Homo sapiens: one gene and its partner. The gene in region 2 interacts genetically with the main gene of each other region. Each region holds a gene or a part of one and is shown on either strand. Other genes may lie near its edges.

Region 1 (9,134 bases), on a different chromosome or scaffold from region 2:
GTACCTCCCCAAGTATTTGTAACTTTTCTTTTAAATATCCAGGCTTATTAAATTGCACACACAGAATGCTGCATTGGCTCAGCTATTCTTGGGAGGCCTAATTAATTCAGCTATTGCATCAAACTTTTTTTTTCTAAATCTGTGAATAGATGCTCCAGCCCGGTTTTCTCTGGGCGCCCCTCCAGCAGAGTGTCAGATCGTGGGGAGGAGGGGCTGTGGATGGAAGCGAGGGACTGTCGCCTCTGCTCGGAGGGGGCTGCGGAGGGTGCATGTGTGTGTGCATGTGTGTGTTTGTGTGTGCGCGCTTCTGACCCTGCCAGGCCAGGGCTCAGGTGGCAGCCGCCTGCAGACCTGTGGGCTGGGGAAGGATGCTCGTGGCAGAGCTGCAGACAGACGTAGCAGGCTGGGGCCCTTCGTGTCACACGGGGAGTTGGTTGGGGTGGGCCCGATGGCGCTCCCTGTGGGCTGGGGCCTTTCTTTTTGGGGTGGCCGCACCCTCGTCAGTGCCTGTGGCTGGAGGAAGCCACATGTCGGGGGGGATTGTGGGCTCGTGCAGGCTGCGTAGTGGGTCACCTGTGGCCAAGGCCTGAGCTGCTGGGACACGCTCACGTCACTGTCTTCAGAGCTGATGGCAGAGGATCTCGGTTGAGCAGGGTGTGTCTGCGTTTGTTTTTGTCCGACTGTGGGTCATGTGTGTGCTTGTGGTCTTTCTGTCTTCCTGGGCTTTGCTGGGGGCCCATTGGAGTGGCCAGTGGGGCCTCGTTGTCACAGCTGACACAGAGCAGGGCCCAGGCCACCCGGCTTCTCTCTCCCTGTGGTTGTGAGCGCCGGGGTCCTTGGGCCGCCATAGAGACAGGCCAGACAGGCTCTGGTCATCTCAGCGGATGCCTCCGAGCCGCCTTTCCCTTTTGAAGTCCCCAGCACTGCTCTGAAATTTCATTTACCGATTAAAAAGCAATTCCCAGGCCATACTGACGACGTGCACGGTGTGAGTGACTGCGTCCTCTAGGCCTGAGTGGCAGCCACACAGCCTGGCCCTGGCAGTGGTGTCCTCCGCCTGGCTCCCTGAATGTTCACCAGCTCCTGCGGGTTTTCCTCTCCTCATGCTCCTGGGGGTGGGGCACCCATCCTGCCCGTGTTGCCTCCTGCTCTATGTTCTTGACGTGGGATGGCGGCCAGGGACTCTGCCCTCGCTCAGTGCCTGCCCTTTAGGCTCTGTGACTGTGCACTTGGGAGTTCTGGGCTTCAGGGTCCCCTTAAGTCTCCTCAGGACAGCCGTGTGCGTGTCTCTGTGTGCACAGGAGCGACACATGAGAAGGGAGTGTGGTCTCAGGGTGGGCGTGGACCCACAGTGCCCAGACCCTACTTGTCCTAGAAGGAGTGGCCTGGGAGGCCCCGCCTCCGCCCTCACTGGCCGCCGTTGGCTCCTCCCACTCGTGTCTTGACAGCTTATTCTCGGGATATGTTTTGATTTCTTCACTTCCTTTGTAGCTTATTTTAATATTTTTGATCTGCCGAAGATGAGGGCAGAACAAAGAATGTACTGGAACTCTCTTTGCAGGGCTGCTGCTCCCAGCAGGCCTTCGGGCTCTGCGGAGCCGGAGGGGGCTGAATTGCCTTCCGGGTGTTTGTGGCCAGGCCAGGGTCGGGTCTCCTGCCTGAGTGGGCTGGGTCAGCGCCACTCTCCTACCCATGGTGGGAGGTGGGAGAGGGCGGAGATGTTCCCGGGTCCCAAACCAAGTGGGAGGCAGGGCTGCAGCTTTCTCCTTGGAAGCCTCCTGTGACAGCGGCTGTGCCTGAGCCTCTGGCCTGTCGGCAGTGCAGTGGCAGCATGAGGGGCAGACAGTCTTCCTCCAGATGCCCCCTCATGTCACGGGGTTACAGAGGAAGCCTCCGCTTCTGTCCAGTGGCTGTCGGGCCCGGCCAGCTTCCTGCTGCTGTATCTTGGAAGACCATGTGGGCTGCATGGGTGCTTGGCGAGTCTCCTCTTAGGGACCCTGGGGCTGCTATCCTTGACAGGGGACCTTGTCTCACCTCCCCACTCGGTCCCACACTGGCTTTGTGACCTTGGACGAGTTGCTTAACCTCTCTGCCTCAGTGTAAACTGGGGACTACTGTTTATTGATCTTGGACTTTATGTTTTGAGTGGTACAGGTGGGGCACAGATGGGTCATTGTGCTGCTGGGAGCACTTAGCCAAGACTGGAGCCTCTGAGCCTTCCCCACTCCCACCCCTCTTTCTTCTTTCCGGTCGGCTCGCCTCCTTCCTCGGGTTCTCTGATAGCTGTAGGACTCCATTGGACTACATTTTTTTGTCAGTATAGACAGCTGTCAGAGACGGAGACAAAATGTGGCAGTTGGAGCTGCCGCTTGGCCTGCTGCCTGGGACGCGGCCCCTTGTCCCGCAGAACGTCAGCCAAGCGCTTTCCGTGCAGGCTGATAACAGGGTGGTGCCGTGCTTCCCTTGGGCCGTGGCAGGATCCTGCTCCAAGGGGGGGTCCTGCTCCGAGGGGGCCGGGGTTTCTGTTCCAACAGGGCTGGTGGGGGGGGTCCTGTTCCCAGAGGTCCGGGATCCTGTTCTGAGGGGGCCAGGGTCCTGTTCTGGGCCGGGGGTCCTGCTCCGAGGGGGCCGGGCGTCCTGTTCCTAGGGGCGGTGGGCTGCCTGTGTGAGAGCTGTTCTTCACCTGCCACGTGCAGTCTGGGCATTCTGGTGACTGGAGAATTTGGGTTGTGTTACAGTGTTGTTGCTCTGTCCTGCAGATGCCTGAATTCCCAGGGGTCTTGCAGGTCCCCTTGCCCTTGCGCTGTGTGGGCTGGCGTGGGTCTCAGTGGGCTGTGGGTTGAGGGTCGCTTGGTTGGGAAGCTCTGCGCGCTTCCCAGTGGAGGGTCCGCGACGGGGGTTTTCTGATCCCTCATGCTGGCTTTTGACCCGTGTCACTGCAAGGCTGCCCCTGGCCCCAGGCAGCGTTTCTTCAGGCAGGTGCCCAGCCAGGTGGTCGGGCTTGAGACCTTTGAGTCTCGAGGTCTGTTCTGGGGAATGACTGAGCTTGTGGAGGCCAGGAAGGGGTTGCTGGGCTTGGAGAGCCTCTGGGGAGGAGTTGTGTTTTGCTCTTTGCTGTTTTAAGCTGAAATGATCACAGGAAGGGACAGCATCAAGAGTTTCTTTCTGGGACACCCCTCACTCAGCTCAGCGGCCGTGTGTGGGTTTGGGGCTGTGCTCTCCCAGACACCCTCAGGTCCGGGGAGCACTTCGGGGGCTATCTGTCCCTTTGTCCACCAGCTTCCTTTGGAAAAAGTGTTTGCTGCAAGTGTTTTTCTCCAGCTTTTCGTGGGGTTCCCTGTAGTCTTGGGCCATGCTCTGGGGTCAGGCTCCCGGCAGGCCCTGGTCCCCGTGCAGAAGGCCAGGGTCTGCGGGTTTGGGCTGGTCTGCCCCCCAGGTGAGGGTTCCGGAAAGACGGCCGGCTGCTGAGTCTTCTCAAGCAGGGGAAACAGCAGCTCGAGAGTGGTTCTTGACCTCTGCCCACCCCAGCTGGCTGTGCACGGACTGGGGAGGGCATGGGCAGCTGCCCCCAGGTGGCTTCTGCAGGGAGCAGAGCTTAGTGGTCATTTTCCCGGCATGGTCTGTCATCCGTCTGTCTGGGACCCCTCTGGGAGCTGGGCTGGGTCCCTCGCCTTCTGGGGCAGCAGGGTCACGGTGGGGGGGCTAGTCCTCTCTTTCAGCATCTTGTTTCTCAGCCGTCCCTGCGGCTATTTGTGCAATGTCTGTCTGTCTGAGTCTCCGGGTGAGGGCAGACAGGATATGGTGCGAGGAAGTCTGGGGTAAGTGTGAGCCGAACCCCGCCCTGGAGTCTCTCGGGGTTGTGGGGCCACAGCCCCAGCTTAGGTTAGGCCTTCACTGCTGCTGGCAGGGCCTCCAGAGAGAAGGCGGTGGTTCCGGGGCCTGGGCCCTGACTGTCTGGCAGGAGGTGTCCACGCCGGCGGCCCGGCTCTCTGTGGCAATAATGTGTCTCTTTCTAAGGATTGCGAAAGTTGAGGGAGGATTTCTCCACTGGAAGAATTATGCAAGCTTCAACTGAAATGTTTTTAAAAAGTTTCTTTGTTTTGAGTCAAAATACAGAAGGTGAATTATTTCCCTAATATCTGGGAGAGCTGGAAAAGAAGGCCCCTGTCCTTATTCTTCAGGGCTCTTCCCCTCCTGAGCAGTGGTCACCAGGCCAGGGTGTCATGGAGGGGGGGCTGCCTGGGGACCAGCTCTTTACACCTGGCCTCCAGAGCGGGTGGTAGGGCGGCTCCTTCCTGCCCTGCCCTGGCTGTCACCCTCGTGGTCTGGAGCAGGGTTTTTTTTTGTTGTTATTTTTTTTTTTTTTTGAGACAGGGTCTGTTTCTGTTGCCCAGGCTGGAGTGCAGTGGTGCGATCTTGGCTCACTGCAGCCTCCGTCTCCTGGGTTCAAGCGATTCTCCTGCCCCAGCCTCCTGGTAGCTGGGATTACAGATGTGTGCCACCACACCCAAGTAATTTTTTTGTATTTTTAGTAGAGATGGGGTTTCACCATGTTGGCCAGCCTGGTCTCGAACTCCTGACCTCAAGTTATCTGCCCACCTTGGCCTCCCAGAGTGCTGGGATTACAGGCATAAGCCACTGTGCCTGGCCCCTGGAGTGGGTTCTGCCACGGAAGGCATCCCCGGGGTCTGCGGGCTGGAGGGGTCGCCCCCACTGTGCCACCTGTTCTCTCGAGGCCTGGTTGCCCTCTGCAGACCAGGTGCCATGCCAGGTGACCCTCAGGAAGCTCTGGCTCACCCCGGGGGCTGGGGGGCATGATAAGCGATAGCTCTTAGGTGCTGCTGCTTTGTGAATATGAGAGAGTTCCAGAAGGGCCCCGCTTCCCAGAGCCTGCATGTTGGTTTCACTGTGTGGTACTTGATATTTTTCCAGGCTGCCTTGCTGGGGTGGCCTCGATGGGGGGCCCAGGGAGCCTCCAGCTCTGGGGACATGCTGCCACATGAGCCTGCTTATTTACGAAAATGAAGAACCAGGACTTGAGTGTGAATTTTAAATGAGATTGTGGGGACAATAGTAAAATCCAGACTAGGACCAGATGGACTGAGCACCTGCGTTGGCCATGGCCCGGAGGTGGCGTGGTGGTGCCTGGCGCCTGTGGCCCTCAGCATGTGTCCTGCCGGCCGCCTAGTAGGCCTTCGCTTGAAGTGCTTATTCCTTTGAGTAATGCTCCTGTCTTTTGTTTGGGGGGAAACAGATAAAGGGGGCTTTGAGAGGCGTCTCGGCGTGATCCTGGGAAACGGCCGAGATTCTGTTCGGTGCTTGGTGTTCGTGTCTTCTCTGATTTTACCTTTTTGACTCATAAAGATGGAAGGAGTGCTCTGCCTCGGTGCCTCTGCAGCTGCAGATGCTGAATCGGGGCGTTTAGGCCTGCCTCTTGGGCTGGCACACCTGGCGGCCTTGGTCAGGCCTTCTTGGGCTGCCTCTGCTGGGGTGCTTGTCTCACTGGCCGTGGGGGTTGTTGCCTGTGTGGTTGTGTTGCTGGCTTCAGGGGCTAGGGTTAGGGACGCCTGGTCACGTCTGGGTCCCCAGTTTGGGGGCCAGATTCAATAACTCACTGAATGACTCAGTGGAACTCTGCAGGCACTGGCAGTCAAGGTTTATTGGCAGGTCCATTCTTTGGCTAGAAGGAGAATGCTGTTTCTTTTCTCACTGTTTCACCATTTTTTTTTTTGAGATGGAGTCTTGCTCTGTTGCCCAGGCTGGAGTGCAGTGGCGTGATCTCGGCTCACTGCAACCTCAGCCTCCCGGGTTCAAGCAATTCCCCTGCCTCAGCCTCCTGAGCAGCTGGGACTACAGGTGCGTGCCACCACGCCTGGCTAATTTTTTGTATTTTAGTAGAGACGGGGTTTTACCATGTTGGCCAGGATGGTCTCCATCTCCTGACCTCTTGATCTGCCCACCTCGGCCTCCCAAAGTGTTGGGATTACAGGCATGAGCCATTGCGCCTGGCCATTGTTCCACCTTTGGAAGAAATTGGTTCACCGTCTTCTGACCTGGGGGGCGCTTCTACCCTGGTTCCATATTGAGGGCTGGGAAGTTGCTGGAATATTATTACCCTTGGCTGGTGAGGCTGAGTGCTGATGCTCCTCCCAGCTCTCAGCCCTGCCTGGACCAACTGCGGCTTCTGCTGGAACGTCGGCGGCTGACTTAGAAAGAAACAGCTCCTGTTCTAGGCTTCCTGCAGGTCCCACGGTGCTGCTTGTTTCAGAGAAACGCAGCTCAGGCTGGCGGCCTCAGGTGGGCATGGGTGGCAGGGGATGCCATCACCCAAATCAGGGATCTTTCTCTGTCCTGAGGGTTCCACCCCAGGACCCAGGGCACTAACTGGGTTCTTGTGTGGCCCTTCCCGACCAGACCTGACCCCTGAGCTGCGTGTGTGAGGTGATGGTGACTCCACGACAGCTTGTGTGCCGTTATGGGGGCACCTGAGGACTGGCTGACCTCACCGGGAAGTGCGTCAGGAGTGGGTGAGGGGTGGTGGGAGGGCAGGGAGCGCCCAGCAGGTGTCCAGCGGTGCTGGCGCTGCCTCTGTCTCTCTGTCCACGCCCTGTGTGTATCTGGAGTGGCTTAGGTGCTCCCTGCGGTGCTCCTGGCTGCTGTGGTTCCTGAAGGCTGCGGCTGTGCCGGTGGTTTCCTTTGATGTCAGTCTTCTTCTACAGGGGAAACCATGTTGCCAGGAGAGCCAGGTGTCCGCTAATTACGTTGTGTTGTTCTGCCCAGGAGTGAACCTGTAAGTGATGAGAATAAGAAGCGGCTGTCAGCCTGCAGACCCGCCCTCACCCTGTCCTGGTTGGGGTGCTGCCTGCTGGGAACCCCTGGTCCAGCTGTTGAGAGGAGGCTGACTGGGGGCACAGTTGTTGCAGAGTCTGATGCAGGCTTTCTCTGCCGGGAAAGTAACATGGAAACATTGTTGCTTTTACTATGGAGCAGATGTATCTTTGCCCAGAAACAGAAATGCTCTTGGTTTCTTTTTTTGGAAATAAGGCCCATAGGCTGGGTCCTTCTTGCCCTGTTGAGGGAACGTGTCTGTCCTTAGCGTGGAGGCCAGTCTGGCCGGGTGCTGAGCTCGTCCTGCAGAACACGCGTGAACGCCTCATCCCTGAGGGCCCCGGGAGGCTGGCGCCCTCTGTGGGAGGTCTGAGGTTGGCCCATTTGACCCTATCCAGGACGGGTTACTTAAGGAGTCCAACGGGCCTTGAGAGGCTGATCACCCTCGTGTGGCGGGCGTCTCTCCCCGGTGCCCTCCCGCCTGGTGCTGTCAAGGGCTTCTCTGTGCCAGGCGCTGGGCTGTGGCAGCCCCAGGTCCCCGCCTGGTGTGGCTGCCCACGGTCCAGGCAGCTCCAGGGTGGGCATCCTTGGCTCCCTCCCTCACCAGCTGGCCCTGGGAGGTCTGTCTGAGAGGAGTTAGGCCTCATTGTCCGTGCTCAGAGAACCCGAGCCTTCCTTAGGAAGCAGTTTGTCCCCGTGCCTCCCTTCAGGATCCTGTGGCCTGAGAAGCCTCTGCGTGGCAGTGGATGGCAGCTCCAGCTGCCCGTGGCCCTCTTTTTTTATGGTTTCCCAGATGACTGGGCCAAGCTGGGCCTCTGCATCCTAGGCATGCTGTTCCCTGCGCTTCCCTGGAAGGTCGGCGGCCCTGCGTGGACCTACACGGTACCCAGGACAGGCCTGCCATGGCACCGGTTGGGCCTCTGGGCACAGGGTGCTCTGCCTCCATGGCCCTGACAGGCTCTGATGCCTGAGGATGGGGGCCGGGCACTCCCAGCCTTGAGACTTCCCTCTGCAGAGGTGGCACAAGCCCGGGGCCCCAGAGTGAGGGGACTCTTGCCTGCCTGGTGAGGGTGAGCGTGGGGTCTGGACTCTGACCCCTGGTCCAGGCGGGAGAGGAGCACACTGGACAGGGCAGCCGAGCCACCCTCTGCGGAGCTGTGGACACTGCGTGTGTGGTGCTGAAGGTGTACACGTCCACTGAGGCCACCTGCGCCGCTGCCTGTGTCCTGTGGGCTGGCACTCACCGAGTGAGAGCTGTGTGCAGAACCTCCGCTGTCAGCGGGCCAGGCCACACTGGGGAGGGAGGTATTCCGTGTGCTTGCACTGAAGCCTGCCCCAGGCTGCCTTCTGGGTTAGGGATACCCAGGACCTCCATAGCTGGTGTGGCGTCTGTGAGATCTCAGCTGCTGCTTCCCTGGACGCCCGTGTGGACCTGGAGGGGGGTGGGGACCCGGCCTGGCATGGTCCCTGGCCACCTGCCTGGTGCTCCGGGTTGTGCCGTTGGCAGTGCCTTCGCTCTGCCTCACCTGCTGCCTCCGCCTTTCCTGGCTACAACCCTGTTGCCCAAACCATTAAAAAAATTATACTACCAAGTTGAATGATATGCAAATGTAGTCAATTAAGCGAGGGGATTTTAATTAGCAGTTTAAGTTCATGTGTGAAGTGCCTTGCCTTAATTACTTGACAGTTTTGTTGTAAATTTGCTAAGTTTTTTTTTGCAGAACTATCAAAACTGTGATTTTTGTTAACATTCTTGGATGCGGTGAGTGGCGCCCAGCTTGCCTGACCCTAGTGGGTTTTGTCTTAATTTATAAAGCTCTTTAAACTGTGAAAACAAGGTAAACCCCCTGGGTTGCCTCTGTGTGGCTCTTCGAGTCAAGCCGGGCTCGATGTCTTCCTTGTCACTGGCTGGGGTGGGGACCTGCCTCGTGCGTGGTCTTGAGCTCCCGTTGGGGGAACGGGAGAACCTTCATCCCATGTGGGTGTAGCCGTTGGCGGCACCTTTGTACGGGGACACACCCTGGACCTGAATGGAGTCAGGAAGGGTTTCAACCTGGATGGCCCGCGTGCCGGGGACCCGCAAGGTGTGCAGTGGCAAGGGCCGGTCCTGGTGGCGGGCTCCCTGGTGATGCTGGTGGATGGTTGTGCGTGGGCCTTGGGGTTCACAGTTCAGTTTGGGAGAGGCGAGAACCCCTCACTTTGAAGTCTTTCCTGGCCAACGGGAGGCTTCTCAGAGCAGCTTTCACGGCTCCGGGGCTGAGTGAGGCCTGTGTCTAGGCTCATCCTGCCCTCCGGGGCGTCCCAGT
Region 2 (9,134 bases):
CGAGGTCAGGAGATTGAGACCATCCTGGCTAACACGGTGAAACCCCATCTCTACTAAAAAATACAAAAAATTAGCCAGGCGTGGTGGTGGGCACCTGTAGTCCCAGCTACTTGGGAGGCTGAGGCAGGAGAAAGGTGTGAACCCAGGAGGCGGAGCTTGCAGTGAGCTGAGATCACGCCACTGCACTCCAGCCTGGGTGACAGAGCGAGACTCCATCTAAAAAAAAAAAAAAAAAAAAAGGAACTAAAATATTCTTTATATTGATGACTGAGTTTTATGGCATTTTTGTCCCCCTGACATTTTTGTCCCTCTGACATTTTTGTCCCTGTGAGTACGTCATTCACCTCACCCTAGCCCTGGGGGCTGCCAGGAAATCATAGGTGGGATACAGGAGGCAGCTGAGGGTTTTGCCGACTTCTCTGATGTGGGCAGCTTGGAGGACCGTGGCATCACAGATTGGGAAGGGGCTTGAGGAAGAGGAGCAGGTTGAAGCTGATGGCTTGAGGGGCCCTAGGGCTGATCTTGGGGTTGGGCACGCAGTGAGTGCCCAGAAATGCTGCTGTCGGCCGGCACCACTCCCCACCCAGAGGGCCATCTATGCACAGTTCTTTAGCCTGGACTCTTGGTCACTCCCTGGAGCCTCAGCCCATCCTTGGCCCATGTGACCCTTTCTTTCTTCCCCAGCACCACCAAGCGCCCCAAGTCCATCGATGACAGTGAGATGGAGAGCCCTGTTGATGACGTGTTCTATCCCGGGACAGGCCGTTCCCCAGCAGCTGGCAGCAGCCAGTCCAGCGGGTGGCCCAACGATGTGGATGCAGGTATGGGTGCGGGGGATCCTGACCCAGAGCAAGGGCAGCCCAGAGTCTTTTTGTCCCCTTCTCAGTTCACCTGGTGAGCCTCCCACCAGTTGTCCCCCTGTCGGGGGGCATTACCCATCTGTTTTCTTGCCTCCTGATCTTCCAGGGAGGGCAGAGCAGGCTGAAGGAAGGGAGTGGAGGTGAGGGTGAGGAGGGGTGCTGTGAGAGTCAGCAGCAGAGCCCGTGGTATGGCGGTGGGAAGCAGAGGGGGTGCCAAGCCTCTGGTGCCCCACAGTGGGATGGCCGCAGCCCCTCCTGGTATTTCTCTAGAGGTTGCCCCACCCCGTGGCCTCATGGTTGAAAGCAGTTTCTCACCCTGGGGGCTCATCATTCTGTGTAGGGGATTGTTCTGTGCATGGCAGGATGTTTAGCAGCATCCCTGGCCTCCACCTACAAGATGCCAGCAGCAAAACCCCCACCCCCAGTTTTGATGACCAAAAACGCCTCCAGACATTGTCAGACGTTCCCTAGTGGGATGGAATCCTCCCAGGATGAGAACCACTGGTCTCAAGGGCCCAGCTTCACAGAGAGAGGCTCAGAGTCTAGTGAAGAATGAGCAGAGTCCTTTTGAGACCAGGTAGGGAAGCTAGCGAAGGGGAGAGAGTACAGAGGAAGCCAGCTCAGACCTTCCCAGTCTCCTCTAGGGATCTTCTTCTTGTTGAACCCACCCCCCTTCACCTCCATTCTTGACTGAGGGTGCAGACAGACCTAGAGAGGACTCTGGAAGACAGCATGTAACACGTGCGTGTGTGTGTGTGCATGTGCATGAGCACATGTGTGTGAGGAGGCTGGCCGCAAGAGTCCCCCGCTGACGTGCCAGTGGTACAGCCCGTGTTTATCCTCACTGTGGGTGTGACAGGGCCTGGGAGTGCAGACTCACGCGTGTGGGTTGTGCACAGGGCATGGCTGCTCTGGACAGGCCTGGGCCCTGGGCATCATTCTCCTCCTCCAAAAGGTGAGGGTCTGACCTAATGGTACTTTGTCTGATGTTTTCCAGATATGCCCCTACTGGGAAGGGCCAAGTGGGCAGGCAGAGTCTGGGGTGGAGCGAGGTGGGGCTGGGAAGCACTCCTGCTTTTCTGCTGCCCCAGAACGAATGCAAGTTCTGGCAGCTTCTCCTCCTCCTGGGAGGAGGAAAGGAGGGCTCGCCTCCAGGCCTCAGGCTGAGGGAGTGGGCTGGAGACCCTCTAGATGGCCAGCAGAGGCTGGCCTCTGTGAGAAGGCTTCCTTGCGTGACTCTGGGGCCCCTCCCAGGCTCTCCTCGTGGCAGGCAGGGACTTGGGCCAGCATGGGCCACATGCTTCCCTAGGGGAGCCTTGAGAGGCAGAGAGAGGAGTTGAGAAGGCCCGGGAGACTCTTGGGCTACATCCTGGGTCCCTGGCCGGGGCCTCAGTAGGTGACCCCTTCTGCAAGGACTGCCCCTGGGGTGCATAGAGGACTGTGTCTGCAGCTGGCTCCTGGGGCAAGGGCTCCTGGGCTCCTGTGCCCAGACCTAATTCCTGAGGAGCCCCCCTCTTCCTGGCTCCTGCTCTCTCCTTTCTTGGCTGTCTGCTTTTGCGCCTGCCATTTCTGCATTTCTGCTCCTTCCGGCAGTCCTGCCACGCACGGCCCCTCAACATCCTCCTGCAGCACCCTCCGGCTCCCTTTTCCCCTCACCCCGCTGTGTGTTGTTTTCATGGGCTGCAACAAATTGCCAATTAAGCAGCCCAGCTGCAGGACAGGGAACAGCTGGGGAGGCACTGTGCGGCCATGGGGACAGCTGTGCACAGCTGGTAGGATGCTCCCCCCTCCCCACTGTGCCAGCTATCAGGTGGCACACAGCTGCTGCCAGATAACACCTCCGCTGGCGGCTGGGAGTTCGCCCTTCCCCCGCCCCTTCCCTCTGCAGTTAAGATGGCTCTTTATTTCTCTGTTCTGCAGCCCCTCCACCCCTCACCCAAACTGACTTGATTTGTCCTCCAAGGGTGGCAGCTGTGAGATCTGCCCCAACTCTACCTTATCCTTCCCAGCCTGGGCACAACCTTAAAGCTCAGCCCAAGATGGGAGCTGATCTTTCCAGAAGAACCTGGCCCCCTGGGGGCCCTGCTTTGTCATTTGGATGCTATGGCCACTGGGCAGAGATGAATTTCTAAAGACAGACTTCAAACAAGGTGTTCTCTGTGCCCTTGTTTCATGCTGAATGCCACCCACACCTCTGGCACCAGAAGCAGGGCAGAGCCCTGAAATTATCCATCCTATGGCAGCTGAGCTTCTGGGTCCCCTGGCTGGGGGAGTCTTCTCCCCTCTGGCTCTGCCTGCACAGCCCGGCTAGGCCTGAGCAGCCCAAGGACTCTCCAGGTCCTCTGGCCTCTGTCCCTGCTCTCTCGCTGGGCATTGTGTCCCTCCTGAGGGCTCATGGCTGTGTGCTCCCTTCCCTAAACGGGGCCCTGGCTTCTTCCCACCAGAACCTCCCATGGCCCCGGGCACCATGGCATAGACCCCAGCCTGTCCCTCCCAAACTTACCCCTTCCCGGCTCTCAAGCTGGCGCCCTGGGGTTCCTCCTGCACTCCTTTCCCAATGTTGGTCCTGCATCCCACCCTTTCACTTCATTACCTGCTTGCCAGGGCATAGGCTGGGGCCCTTGCTCACCCCCTGCCTGGCACACACCACCCCACATTACCCAGGGGCCTCGTTTTCCTCTCTGGTTAGAAGCACCCCTTGGCTGGCCTACACACAGGGCCTCGGAACCAGGCCTAGAACAAGGCCTGGGACTGGGCAAGGAGCAGCAGGAGGGAGCACAGTGGAGGAAGGGGCAGTGGGGAGGGGCTGAGGAGAGAAGGAGCGAGCTGCTGGCTTCCCGCCTTCCCCGCACCCACCCCAGCCCAGCTAAACCTGCCCTGTGTTGCTGCTTCCTCCCCCCAGGCCCGGCTTCTCTAAAGAAGTCAGGAAAGCTGGACTTCTGCAGTGCCCTCTCCTCTCAGGGCAGCTCCCCGCGCATGGCTTTCACCCACCACCCGCTGCCTGTGCTTGCTGGAGTCAGACCAGGTGAGAAATGGGGGGCCCCGGAGGGGGGCAGTTGGGGAGGTGGCTGAGTATCTAGGGGCAGCTGGCCAGGTGAAGGGGCCAGAGCTGACCCCGAGTGACAGCCCCACGCTCTCCAAGTGGGCCAAGGTGCAGCAGCGGGTGGGCATGGGAGCCGGCCCCTGCTTCACGTAGCACCTCATCGAGGACCAGGCCGGGCCCCTGGGCTGCCCACCTGGCTCCTGAGCAACCTCCCACTTCTCACTCCTCACGTGCATGGGTGCTACATACAACACAAGCCTGTCCCGAGTCCTCCCCAACTCTGGCCCAGTTCTCCTTTTGTCCTGCCAGCTGTGAGCGGGAAGGCACAGCCTTCTGCTCTGCCTTCCTGCCGGCTCCTCTCTCCCAGCTCCTGGCTGAGCCCAGGCTCTGGATTTTTGCCAGCATGAGCCCAGGTTGATGTGGGGCCTGGATGGAGAAGAGTACTCCTAAGGAGCCCAGGCTCCTGCGGCAAGTAGCTACCTTGTCTGGGCCTCCCTGCCGCTTTCTAGAAAGGAAGGGCTGGGTCTAGGGGACAGGTGGTACCTGGGCTGCTCCCCAGGAAAAGGAACTGCCCACTGCCGTGGGGCTGCTCTCTGACTTCAGTGTCCCAGTTGAGAAGGTGCTCAGGATGAGAACACCTAGATCGCCCTGAGGAGATAGGATCAGGCAGGAGGCTGTGGGAGCTGAGACCTCAGCCCTGTCACTCCTTCACTTTCTTCTTCCCTCTCTGGGCACCCACCTGGCAGCAAGAGGCCTGGACTTTTTCTGGATATGGCCCTATGTCCGCCTGCCATCTCCTGGGCTCGTATGTAGGACACAGAAAATGAGGAGGTTTACCTCCTGGCTTCCTCCTTGGGGCCTCCTGGCTGGGAGCCCAGAGGCAGCCGGTGCTGGGGCAGGGTGTGGTGGCCGCGAGGTGGGGGTGGGGAGCCCAGGCCCTCTACACAGGCAGCAGGAGGGCGCAGGCCTGGCTCCTCCGGCTCCACCTCAGCTTTTATGAACTCCAGAGAGAAGCCAAGTTTCCTCAGCCCCCTAATGAAACCGAGAGCAAGAGCGAGCTGATTGGAAACAGACGGGAGGAGGAAGAGCTGGGGCCTGCTCTGGGTTGGGAATTGCGTGTGCAAGGACGCGTATGTGAGGACACGTGTGTGAGTGATGAGGCTGAGCACATGAGAACACCGCCTAGGTGGCGGTGGCTGGGTGCACACCAGCTCGCACTCAGGAGATGTGTGTGCATATGTCAGACGGCCATCCTGAGCAGATGCTGGCTTTGTCTTCATCCAGAGCCCCAGGGAACCCTCTGCCTCCTCTTGTCCCCCACCCAGTCTCCCACCCAGGGCCTGAATTAAGGCAGGGCTAGTGAGGCACTCACCTTAGGTGCAGAGTGTCAGCAAGTATCAAAAACTCAGTCATCAAGATAAATAATATTTTAATGGAATATGTTTTAAAATCCAAACTATTGCAAAAAAAAGGGTATGGTAAGCAAACACCAGTTTTTTTGTTTGTTTTTCTTTTTCTTTTTTCAAAGACAGTTTCCTGCTCTATTACTCAGGCTGAATGCAGTGGCACGATTATAGCTCACTGAAGCCTTGAACTCCCAGACTCAAGTGATCCCTCCTGTGTGCCACCCTGGCTAATTTTTAAATGTTTGTTGTAGAGACGGGGTCTTGTTATGTTTCCCAGGCTGACCTCCAACTCCTGGATCAAGTGATCCTCCCACCTTGGCCTCCCAAAGCACTGGGATTACAGGTATGAGCCACAGCACTCAGCCATGTCTTTGTTTAAAATGGTTTAAAATGTTGAGGCTGGGCACAGTGGCTCATGCTTGTAATCCCTGTACTTTGGGAGGCCAAGGCAGGAAGACTGCTTGAGGCCAGGAGTTCGAGGCTGCAGCGAGCTGTGATCATGCCACTGCACTACAGCCTGGATGACAGGGCGAGATCCTGTCTCTATTTAACAGATACTGGCTGGGCGCGGTGTCTCACGCCTGTAATCCCAGCACTTTGGGAGGCTGAGGTGGGCGGATCACAAGGTCAGGAGATCGAGACCATTCTGGCTAACACGGTGAAACCCTGTCTCTACTAAAAATACAAAAAATTAGCCGGGCGTGGTGGTGGGCGCCTGTAGTCCCAGCTACTCGGGAGGCTGAGGCAGGAGAATGGCGTGAACCCGGGAGGCAGAGCTTGCAGTGAGCTGAGATCGCACCACTGCACTCCAGCCTGGGTGAGAGAGCGAGACTCAGTCTCAAAAAAAAAAATTCTTTAGGCTGGGCACAGTGGCTCATGCCTGTAATCCCAGCACTTTGGGAGGCCAAGGCAGGCAGATCACTTGAGCCCAGGAGTTTGAGATTAACCAGGACAATATGGCAAAATCTCATCTCTAGAAAAAAAAAAAAGCAAAAATCTACCAGGCCTGGTGGCGTGCACCTGTAGTGCTGGTTACTTGGGGGGCTGAGGTGGGAGGATTGCATGAGCCCAGGAGGATTGCTTGCCGTGATCCGTGTTTGTGCCACTGCACTCCAGTCTGGATGACAGAGCGAGACCCTGTCTCAAATAATAATAATAACACTTTTTTAAAAAGCCAAATAAAATAAAGACAAGATCCTACCCTGCCTCATCTGCCTCATCCTAATCTCCCAGCGCTGGTTGTGATCAAACTTTATTTACAAAAACAAATGGCTGGCCTTTGGACCCTAGTTTGCCTATTTGATTATTATTATTATTATTATTTTTGTATTGCATTAAAACATCATGGATCCTGATGACTGACTTTTTTGTGCCGCCTTAACTTTTGTGCCTGTGGCGGCTGCCTTACCTGCTCAGGATCCTCAGGACCCTCTGACCGGCAGCTCCCCTCCTCTCCTGTCCCTCCCACTGGCTGCCTCCTTGGCCCTGACGCCCTTTTTTCCCTGCCCACGTGCATGCAGGGAGCCCCCGGGCCACAGCATCAGCCCTGCACTTCCCCTCCACGTCCATCATCCAGCAGTCGAGCCCGTATTTCACGCACCCGACCATCCGCTACCACCACCACCACGGGCAGGACTCACTGAAGGAGTTTGTGCAGTTTGTGTGCTCGGATGGCTCGGGCCAGGCCACCGGACAGGTGAGTCCAGAGGGCCCCAGGAGCCCGGCTACAGCCTCATCTCCACATCTATCTGTCTGTCTCAGGGCTCACAGGGAGAGGGCCCAAAAGCCAGGAGCCCACCTGGGGCTGGAGCAGCAGGGAGCTGGTAGTACCAAACGCCTCGATTTTCTGGGTCTGGGGACGGGGGTCTGTGTATTATGCCAGGGCTTGTCTATCATGGTCCGGAGAGGTGGGGGCAGCATCTGGGCCCCCTTGCTCAGTCAGGCTCCTTGCCTTTCCCATGGTCCTTGCCCCCTCAGCAGGAGTGAACTCATGATGATCCAACCCGGATCTGGGCCCTGACCTCCCAGCGCTCCTCTTAAACCTCGGGGCTGCAAGGATTTGCTAGATTCTAGACCAGGGTTTCCCCAGTATCAGCACTGTTGACATTTGGGGCTGTTTATTCACTATTGTGTGAGACCATCCAGTGCTCTGTAGGATGTTGAGCAATATCCCTGGCCTCCACCTGCTAGATGCCAGGAGCACCTCCTCCTCCCCAGTCTTGATAATAAAAAAAAGTCTCCAGATTTCAGTGTGCCCAGGAGGGGAAGACCATCCCTAGTGAGGAGCACTGTGTCAAGGGAAAGCCCCGATCCACATAGCTGCCACGGAGACTCCTGCTGGCAGGACTTTTAACAAAGGGTTCCCAGGACGGTCCTGGTTCTAGAGTGAAACCCTGCTGCTCCTCAGCCCTGGGAGACACACTGGCTCCCCCCAGAGCCCTTCTCTGTCACTGACAGAAACTCAGGGTTGCTCAGCGAAAGAATGATCCCAGGAGGTGGTGGGCCAGAGATGACCCTTCAGTGGGACAACGGTCCCTGGTTGGAATGTGGAGGTTTCTAGACCTCTGGGAAAAATCCAGAGCCTCAGCAGCATGCTGTAATAGGAGAAGCTCTAGCTCCTCTGTAGCCAGCCCTCCCAGCTTGGAAGCCTGCTGCGAGAGGTCAGGCAGGGAGGATGCTCAAAGGGCTGTGGTGGGGAAAGGCATCCCGGAAGCCCACACCAGAGGCTGCCTGCTGCCACCAGCCCCGTGCTGCCTTGGTGTGCTCTGGCAGAGCGAGCATTTGCTAAGTGCTGGTGTATTGATTTGCGGCGGGGCCGTGGCTCCGCCTCCTCACTCTGTCCCTAAGGGAAGCCAGTCCTCTTCCCTCCCTCCTGTTCCCCTCCTGCTCCTTTCCTCCTCGTCTCCCTTCTCCCTTTGCCCATCGAGGGTTTCTCTTGGCTGACTCTGCAGCTCCTTAGCATACTGGTAGCTTCGCCCACCTCTCTCTGGACAAGCTCTGTCCACTTTTAGGGCCATGGAGGGAAGAGCAGACCTGACCTCTGACAGCTGCTGTGCTTGCATCAGAGATGCCAGCAGAGTTCACGGGGAGCTACCAGCCTATGCCCAGCCCCCAAGGGGCCTGGGGTCTGGGATATGCCGCAGAGAGGCCTGGAACATTACCTTACCTGCTTTCTTAACTACCGAGGCAGCCAGGATTTGGAGTCAAATTCAGGCTGGCCTAGAGACCGGCCAAGGTTAGGCCAAGGAGCCAAACCTAACCACAGAACCCTTGAGAAAGTGGGTCATTTAGTCCCCTGGCCATTCTGAGCCTCTGGTCCTGAGGGCTGGGTCCTGAGCCTCTCCCTTGACTTGACTGTTCAAGATTGAGGACTCTGATATAGAGCCATAGTTTTTAAAAAAACGACAGAGGACTCATTTTGCCTAGAAGCTTCTCTTCCTGAGGCAGGCACTTGCTCCAAGCAGACCATGGACAAAACACCGCAAACAGGCACCTTGATTAAGCAAGGAGTGTGGCCCAGCTGGGGAGCAACTTCTGAGTTTCCTTGTGTGGCCTGTGTGGCCTGTTGTACTGAAGAGAGGGAGAGGGGGCTCAGCGGGGAGCCTGCTTGATGGAGCCCACGCCCGGCTTCTGGGAGGAGGCTAGAGACAGCACTGTGCTACACAAGAGGCTGATGCATAGCTGCAGAGAGCCAGAGGGCCCGGCTCCGCCACTGATCCAGTGGGTAGGGAGTGGCAGCGCCCAGCTGTGCTTGCACTACAGCCACTGTTAAGCAGTGCTTCTCAGACTTGGCATGCGCGAGAGTCAACTAGAGCCCTGGCTAAC

The links.
Region 1: of NFIX (region 2) and SKI, changing one enhances a phenotype caused by changing the other (phenotypic enhancement), as found in Homo sapiens cells (one study listed by BioGRID).

Annotation. Positions count from the first base shown.
Region 1 is NC_000001.11:2,230,694-2,239,827, forward strand, and holds part of SKI (ski oncogene), read left to right. Parts: intron 1-750; exon of another isoform or gene 751-9,134. UniProt on the Homo sapiens protein: May play a role in terminal differentiation of skeletal muscle cells but not in the determination of cells to the myogenic lineage. Functions as a repressor of TGF-beta signaling.
Region 2 is NC_000019.10:13,074,851-13,083,984, forward strand, and holds part of NFIX (nuclear factor 1 X-type), read left to right. Parts: intron 1-684; coding exon 685-821; intron 822-3,762; coding exon 3,763-3,885; intron 3,886-6,829; coding exon 6,830-7,005; intron 7,006-9,134.